Homo sapiens: one gene and its partner. The protein of the gene in region 1 interacts with the protein of each later gene in a biochemical or structural test. Each region holds a gene or a part of one and is shown on either strand. Other genes may lie near its edges. The genes, in order: PPFIA3 and GIT1.

Evidence for each region.
Region 2: the proteins of PPFIA3 (region 1) and GIT1 form a complex in vitro, tested with the Homo sapiens proteins (one study listed by BioGRID).

Annotation. Positions count from the first base shown.
Region 1 is NC_000019.10:49,125,888-49,129,694, reverse strand, and holds part of PPFIA3 (liprin-alpha-3), read right to left. Parts: intron 1,837-3,807; 5' UTR 1,822-1,836; coding exon 1,582-1,821; intron 1,329-1,581; coding exon 1,227-1,328; intron 848-1,226; coding exon 683-847; intron 316-682; coding exon 241-315; intron 1-240. UniProt on the Homo sapiens protein: May regulate the disassembly of focal adhesions. May localize receptor-like tyrosine phosphatases type 2A at specific sites on the plasma membrane, possibly regulating their interaction with the extracellular environment and their association with substrates.
Region 2 is NC_000017.11:29,583,149-29,586,955, reverse strand, and holds part of GIT1 (ARF GTPase-activating protein GIT1), read left to right. Parts: intron 1-3,339; coding exon 3,340-3,473; intron 3,474-3,807. UniProt on the Homo sapiens protein: GTPase-activating protein for ADP ribosylation factor family members, including ARF1.

The DNA of each region.
Region 1 (3,807 bases):
CAGCCCCTGGTTCTACCCTTAATCTCACTCTCACTGGGAGATTCTCCCCGTAGCCCTGCGCAATGCGTGCCCACTTAGGAACCCCACTGGTTTCTCTCCATAGTCCAACCCCATAGCTTGTCTGCCCTAGTCCTGCCCCAATAGATTCTCTCTGGAACCCACCCAACCGGCTCCGCCCCGTGGGCAGCCCCTTAGCCCCTCCCCTTGGATTCAAATTCCCTGTCTTGGCCACACCCACACCTCCTGATTGCTCAGTTCCAGCTCCTCCTCGAGCACTGCCACGCGCTCCAGCGCCATCCGCAGCCGCTCCCGGACCTGGGGATCGGGGCAGGGCAACAGTCAGCTGGAGACAAGATCCAGTTTAGGACAGTTGCCCCTGGTCCAGAACACCCCTGGGACGGATCCGATAGGGCAGCGTTGGGGCTCCTGTCTCCATAACGGGTATGCAGCCGCAACCAGCTATCCAATCTGCCCCATCCACTGTTAGCCCCCATCCTGGTTTATTTTTCTGCTATCAACCAGTCAGGTCCCAGTCTATGTATCCTGTCCCAATCAATCACAGTCAACATTCTTCCAACTCAGAACATCCCCAACCAATCACGGCCAGAATCTCTCCCACTCAGAACAGCCCCAGTCAACTATAGGTTTCCATTCTCCACCCCTGCTCTTCTAATTCTCATACCTTCTCATCCAGGGCCTTGTGGTGCTCGAAGAGAGACTTTAGAGCTTTGAGCACTTCTACCTCCGAGGAGACCCCACCCGGGGACTGGGCCTGGCGCTTCACCACGGTCATGCGCAGTGACCTCTCGTGCCTGGACACCAGGCACTCCAGGTGTTCCAGGAGCAGCTGCAAGCACACGGCATGGGGTCAAGGAAAAGAGGCAAGGGAAAAGGGGCAGATGTGAGAAAAAGGGTGACAGGTAGGGCGGACACATGGAGGAAAAGATGGAGCCATATAAAGGAGCACCGAGACAGGTCAGGAAAAGAGAGGAGGTCGGGGTCAAGGAACCGGTGGTACAGAAAAGAGAAAAGTTATGGAGACAGGGAGGAAGGAGTGGCACCAGAGTGGGAGACCAGCCAGGAAGTGGGAGCAGGGAAGAGGAGAAGACAGAAAGGCGAGATGGGGGAAAAAAATAGGTCACGCTGCAACACTGAGAGGCCCCGCCCCCCACTTCAACACCACGAGGCCCCGCCCCCACTTAGGCCCCGCCCTCAACACCCCTCACCCGCGTGTTGTTCCGTTCCGCCTTCAGCTCTGCAATCTCTTCCTCCCTCTCCAGCAGCTGCTCCCGACATAAGTTCAGCTCCTTCGTCAGAGCTGCAAACTCCTGTCCAGACATTGGCAGGATCTGGACATTCGGCTCAATCCTTTCCCTGTCTCCTTCATTCACTGGGACTGGAAGTTTGAAGGTCCCGCCCTCCCTGCTAAGTCCCGCTGTCCCTTGCCACTCAGGCCCCGCCCATTAACGGCAAGCCTCGCCCAGACTCCTCCCTTCCAGGCGCCAAGCCCGGCCCCTTCCGGACCGCCTTCTTCCCCCCGAGGCCCCGCCCCCTCATGCCCCGCCCCTGTCCCGCCCAGACCTGGGGCAGCGCGATGCTGAGCTGGCGCTGCAGCGAGTCCTTCTCGTGGCCGAGCTCGCGCAGCCGCAGCTGCGCTGTAGCCAACCCGTCCTGTGCCTCGCGCAGCGTCTCCAGCAGGCGCTCGCGCTCCGTGAGCATCGTGACCATGAGGCGCTCCAGCTCCCCGCCCGCCTCGTCCGGGCCCAGCGCCGAGCCCCGCCGGCCATCCTCGCTGATGGTGGGCATCACCTCGCACATCATGGCGGCGGTGCGGGCCTGCGGGGCGGGGAGGGCAAGGAACAGACCGGCCTTGTCAAGGCACAACAGAGAAACTGAGGCACAGCCACTCGGATACCACGTAGGGGAAATAGTTGGGGGCAAACCAAGCACTGCACAGAAGAAACTGAGGCCCAGGCACTGTGATCATGACACAGGGAAACAGGCACCGCCACCCTGTCACTCCACCGGGGAAACCAAAGATTGGCCACCAGGTGCTGCCAGGGGAAACTGAGGCCTATTATTATTATTATTTTTTTTTAACAGGGTCTCACTCTGTCACCCAGGCTGGAGTTCAGTGGCGCGATCACGGCCCACTGCAGCCTGAACGACCCAGACTCGAGCAGTCCTCCCAACTCAGCCTCCTGAGTAGCTGCGACTACAGGCACACACCAGCATACCTGGCTAATTTTTTTCTTTTCTTTTCTTTTCTTTTCCTTTCCCTACTTTCTTTTTTTTTTTTTTTTTTTTTTTTAGCTGGAGTGATCTGTCACCCAGGCTGGAGTGCAGTGATGCGATCTCGGCTCACTGCAGCCTCCACCTCCCGGGTCCCGGTTCAAGCAATTCTCCTCCCTCAGCCTCCCGAGTAGCTGGGATTACAGGAACCCGCCACCATGCCCAGCTAATTTTTGTATTTTTAGTAGAGACAAGGTTTCACCATGTTGGCCAGGCTGGTCTCGAACTCCTGACCTCGTGATCTGCCCGCCTCGGCCTCCCAAAGTGCTGGGATTACAGACGTGAGCCACCGCGCCTGACCTTTTTTTTTTTTTTTTTTTTTGTGGAGATGAGGTCTCACTCCTGGACTCAAGGGATCCTCCTGCCTCAGCATCCCAAAGTATGCCACTGTGCCTGTGCCATTGCTCTTAGGAAAACAGTCCTGGCTACCTGGGTGAGAGGATTTGGGAAAACTGAGGTCAGACTCCAACAGACAGTGGCAGCAAACCTAAGCCTAGCCCACTCAAAGGAACCAAAGCTGGCCGACCCTGGTATCGTATGAGTGAATGTGGAGAAAATCAGTGTCTACCTATTCTGGCTCTACTGAGAATCCCCCTCAACCCACTGCATGGGTAGGAAAACTGAGGCCCAGACCAGAACCATGCCTTAAGAAGGCCACAGGGCCAAGGGACCCAGGATTAGGTCACTAGGATGTGGTTACCTGTATAATGTCACAGGGTTGGTCTCACCTACTAGCCAGCCCAACTCCTGCCTCCTTCAATTTCCCAGAAATCTGGACCCCGGCTCCCTAAGAATCTAAAGACCTACTCCATTCGGGAAAAGAAAAAAAAAAAAAAAAAAAAGCAAGGCCAGGACTGGGCGCAGTGGCTCATGCCTGTAATCCCAGCACTTTGGGAGGCCGAGATGGGCAGATCACTTGAGGTCAGGAGTTCAAGACCAGGCTGTGCAACATGGTGACCCCCGTCTCTACTAAAAATACAAAAAAAATTAGCCGGGCATGGTGGCATGCACCTGTAGTCCCAGCCACTGGGGAGGCTGAGGCACAAGAATCGCTTGAACCCGGGAGGTGGAGGTTAGAGTGAGCCGAGATAGCACCACTGAACTCCAGCCTGGGCAACAGTGTGAGATTCCATTTCAAAAAAAAAACACAGTAACGGCCGGGCAAGGTGGCCCACTCATGTAATCCCAGCACTTTGGGAGGCTGAGGCTGTTGGATCACGAGGTCAAGAGATTGAGCCCAGCCTGGCCAACATGGTGAAACCCCATCTCTACTAAAAATACAAAAATTAGCTTGCGTGGTGGCACGCACCTGTAGTCCCAGCTACTCGGGAGGCTGAGGCAGGAGAATCGCTTGAACCCGGGAGGCAGAGGTTGCGGTGAGCCAAGATCGTGCCACTGCACTCCAGCTTGGCGATATAGAGAGACCCAGTCTCAAAAAAAAACAAAACAAACAAACAAACAAAAAAAAACAAAAAAAATACCAGTATGGCCAGGACCATGCTTGTCACTTCTTCA
Region 2 (3,807 bases), on another chromosome or scaffold:
CACAGGACAAGTGTGAGTGTGTTGCTAGGCAGCTGGACATGACATGGCTGCTCTGGCAGCTTGTGCCACCTCGTCAGGCACCGTATGTGTTCCTGCCTGCCTGGGGAGTCCAAGAGAGGAAGGGGGCAGGGAGCCCTGGAGAATGTGCATCTTCCCCTTTCCTTAGGCTTGGCCCACCTCGCCACACGATCTCAGTCAAGGGCCTCTCCTCACCCCATGGGCTTCTATCTCAGCCTTTTCCACTTTGGCAACCCTGGGGGTGAGAGTGAAGGCCTCAAGATGCCTGTCCTGTAGGTATCTCTGGTGAGCAAGGCCGGGGACATGTTACGGGACAAGCTACAGGCTGATTTGTCTCTTCATAGTGTAGATTGCAGAGTGGGACAAATGTTGGGCTCCTCTTCCTCCCTTATGGAGGTAGAATTTGTGTGTGTCAATGCCTGCACCTGAGTGTTCATCCTGATGGGCTTTTACATGTGTGTATACCCATGTAACTACTGCTCTGATCATGTTATAGAATAAGGGTATCCAATCTTTTTGCTTCCCTGGGCCACATTGGAAGAAGAATTTTCTTGGGCCACACCTAAAATACGCTAACACTAATGATAGCTGGTGAGCTAAATAAAACAAGCAAAAATAAAAATAAAAAATAAAGTCACAAAAAAGTCTCATAATGTTTTAAGAAAGTTTATGAATTTGTGTTGGGCCACATTCAAAGCTGCCTGGGCCGCATATGGACTGCAGGTTAGACAAGCATGTTATAGAACATTTCCATCACCTTAGGGGGCTTCCAAGTACCCCCTCCCAGTCCGTGCACCCCAGAGGTAACCACCATTCTGACTCTACCCCAAGGACTACTCTCGCCTGCCTTCATGATGTGGGCTTTTCCCTTAGTCTAGTGGAGATCTGGCCCTTAGCTCAGGGGAGGGAGGCCTGAGGCTAGCCTGTATGTGCAAACCTACTGGCCCTGGAGGCCACTGATGGCTTCAGGTGGTGGCAGGAATTCACCGTAGTAGAGGCCTCCATGGGGTTGGCACTGGTTAACGTGATCCCAGGATCACGCCTGCTACCTCTCCACACATACAGACCCATACCCTGCCGGTGGAGCCAGAAGCGCAGGGGGAGGGCTGACGAGTTCCCTTACAGTTCCTGTCCTTTCCGTCCCAGGTTTGGTCCAAGGAGCTTCTTGACGCAAGGATCCCTTCACCTTAAACTACAATCTGGGTAGTCCCAAGGGCACTTGCACAGAGGGAGGAGACAGAATGGTTAGGGTGGGCGTCCCATCTGTGTCATCCAGAAATGAGCTGACACCAATAGCGGCTGCCCAGACCAGGACAGTGTCCTTTGCCTACCATTCTTCTCAGGTCACCTGGAGGAGAAGGAGAACCCCTCCCCCAGGCTGGGGGAAAGTGCCAGGCAAACCCTTGGACCACACTCCTGCATCCTGGTCTTGGTTACTGCCATAGCCAGGGTCACTCACCACATCTGGTCTGCCCATGGCTTAGGGCTCTGGAGCCATTGGCCGTGGATATATAGTCAGCCTTCCATGCCTGGCTTCTCCGGTAGGACCACAGACCTCAGATCAGCCCATTTATGATCCTGCCCTGGGCGGCTCCCCACTTACAGGAAACCCCACCAAGAGGAATTTGGGCTGCATCATTTCCGGCTTCCTGCCTGGGCTGCTGGAGGTGGCTGGCTGGCAGCCCCCTGACCCAGTGGTGTTTGGAGTGGGGAGAGGGAGGTCTCCACACCTGGGGTGCCTCACTATTTGGGTAAAGCCAGCCCAGAAGTGCATGCTAGGGCTCCCCCTCTTGGCGAAGAAGGCTGGTCCCTTCCTCCTGAGCCCTGGAGTCAGCCCCCCAGGAAGGTGTTGGCGGTCACCTTGGGCATCCCTCTGTTGCCCTGATTGGGAGGGGGTCCCTTAAAAAGCCTAAACCCGCTGCACTCCAGCCTGGGCGACAGAGCGGGACTCCGTCTCAAAAAAAAAAAAAAAAAAAAAGCCTAAACCCAAAGACAGGCCTCTCTCCTTTACTTCCTGTTTTCATGCCTCAGTGGGGGTCACTTGCTGTGGGCAGAGCTCAGGCTGGGCCCCTGACTCAGAGTCTCCTCAATTTTCCTGGGAACTTTGGTGGAAGTCCTTAGAGGGGAAAGGCCTGAGAATTGCCTTCTAGTTGGGAGAGATTCTTATCCCCCTAAGCCTGTCCCTCCCCTGATGGGGATACTTCTGAACACCCTGAGCGCTACAGGGCAAGGCAGAGAGCCAGTCCCCCACCCCCACCCCAGGACAGGGTTTCCTGAGACAGGGTGGGGGCCGCTGGGCAGAGCAAAGTGTCCTGGGAGAGAGGCGCCCTGCCCCCACTCTCAGGCGGCACACAATGGCTGCTTTCTCCCCCGTGACCTTTCCGCAGCCTGAGTCGTATGCAGCTGTCTCCCAAGGGGCCTAGGATGGGTGGCATCTCCTCCACCCTTGAGAAGAACCCCGGAACTCCCACCCAGTCCTGGCCCTGCTTCTTCTCCCAAGTTCACTTTTCCCAAAAGAGTGGAGAGCAGGCTATAGAGGCAGAGGGACAGCAGCAAGTGTGGACATGGCATGGTCTCAGGCATGAAAGTGCCACATCCTGGCAATTCTACTCATTAGCCTCGCATCCTTGAATAAGCCCTTTAACCTCTCTGAGCCACTGTTTCTTCATCACAGAGGTAGCATGTCCTACCTTGCCTGACAGTTGCAAGCAGCATCACACATAATGTACCCAGCTGGTACCTAGTGGGTGCCCAGTCAAGCCCAGCTCCTTTGCTCTGTCCATCTTCCTTAAGAGGGCTCCAGCTTACACCCTCAGTGATGATGGCAGGAGGCTCCAGCATGAAAGGACCTCACCTGCTGGCAGGAGGCCAGAGGCAGGACCTGTGGACGGGTGTGATCTGTCAGGCATGTTTCAACAGCATCTGGCATGCAGCAGCATCTGGGTTGCATCCCCTTGGGGATCCCTTCCTCCCTTCGGGACGGGCTGGGGCAGAGACCTCGTTTCCTGGGAAAAGGCTGAGAGACTGGTAGCAGTGGCTGCAGGGCAGGAAACTGTGCCTGCTGAATGGGCCCTGGGGACTGCATATCCCAGAGGGGTAAGGATGTAGGAAAGGGCATGGCTCTGTCAGCCCCCAGCTGTGAGCTCTTGGGGAGATCCCTCACTGGTAACCTGGCCGTAGTGATGGTCCCAGCTCCTAGGCTGTTGGAGACTGAGTGAGTGAATGTGTGGAGAGTACTAGGCTTGGCACGGGCCAGAGCAGGTGCTCAGGAGGTCTGGCCCATCATCTGGCTCCGGCTGACCCTTGCCCTCACCCTGGCAGACCCTGGCTGGGCATCCATCAGCAGGGGTGTGCTGGTGTGTGACGAGTGCTGCAGCGTGCACCGGAGCCTGGGACGCCACATCTCCATTGTCAAGCACCTTCGCCACAGCGCCTGGCCTCCCACGCTGCTGCAGGTACAGGGCTCAGTCGGGTGGTTCTTCCTTCCCCTCAGGCAGAGTGTGCTGAGCATGAGGGCGTTTCCCCCTCACCCACATACACCCCCATCTGGAATCTGCAGCTTCCAAGGGGCAGCACCCCCCTAGGGCAGAGGCTAATCCTGACCCTTTCCTCCCATCTACTCACTTCATGCAGAAGAGTAGCTCACACCCCTGCTCTGCCACTTATCAACGTGGTCGTGTAGCATTGAGCAAGTTGCTTCACCTCTCTGAGCCTTGGCACACTCATGGGATCTGTGTCTTTGGGCAGCTGGACTAGATGGAGGTGTGGTGGTGCGGGCACACAGTAGGC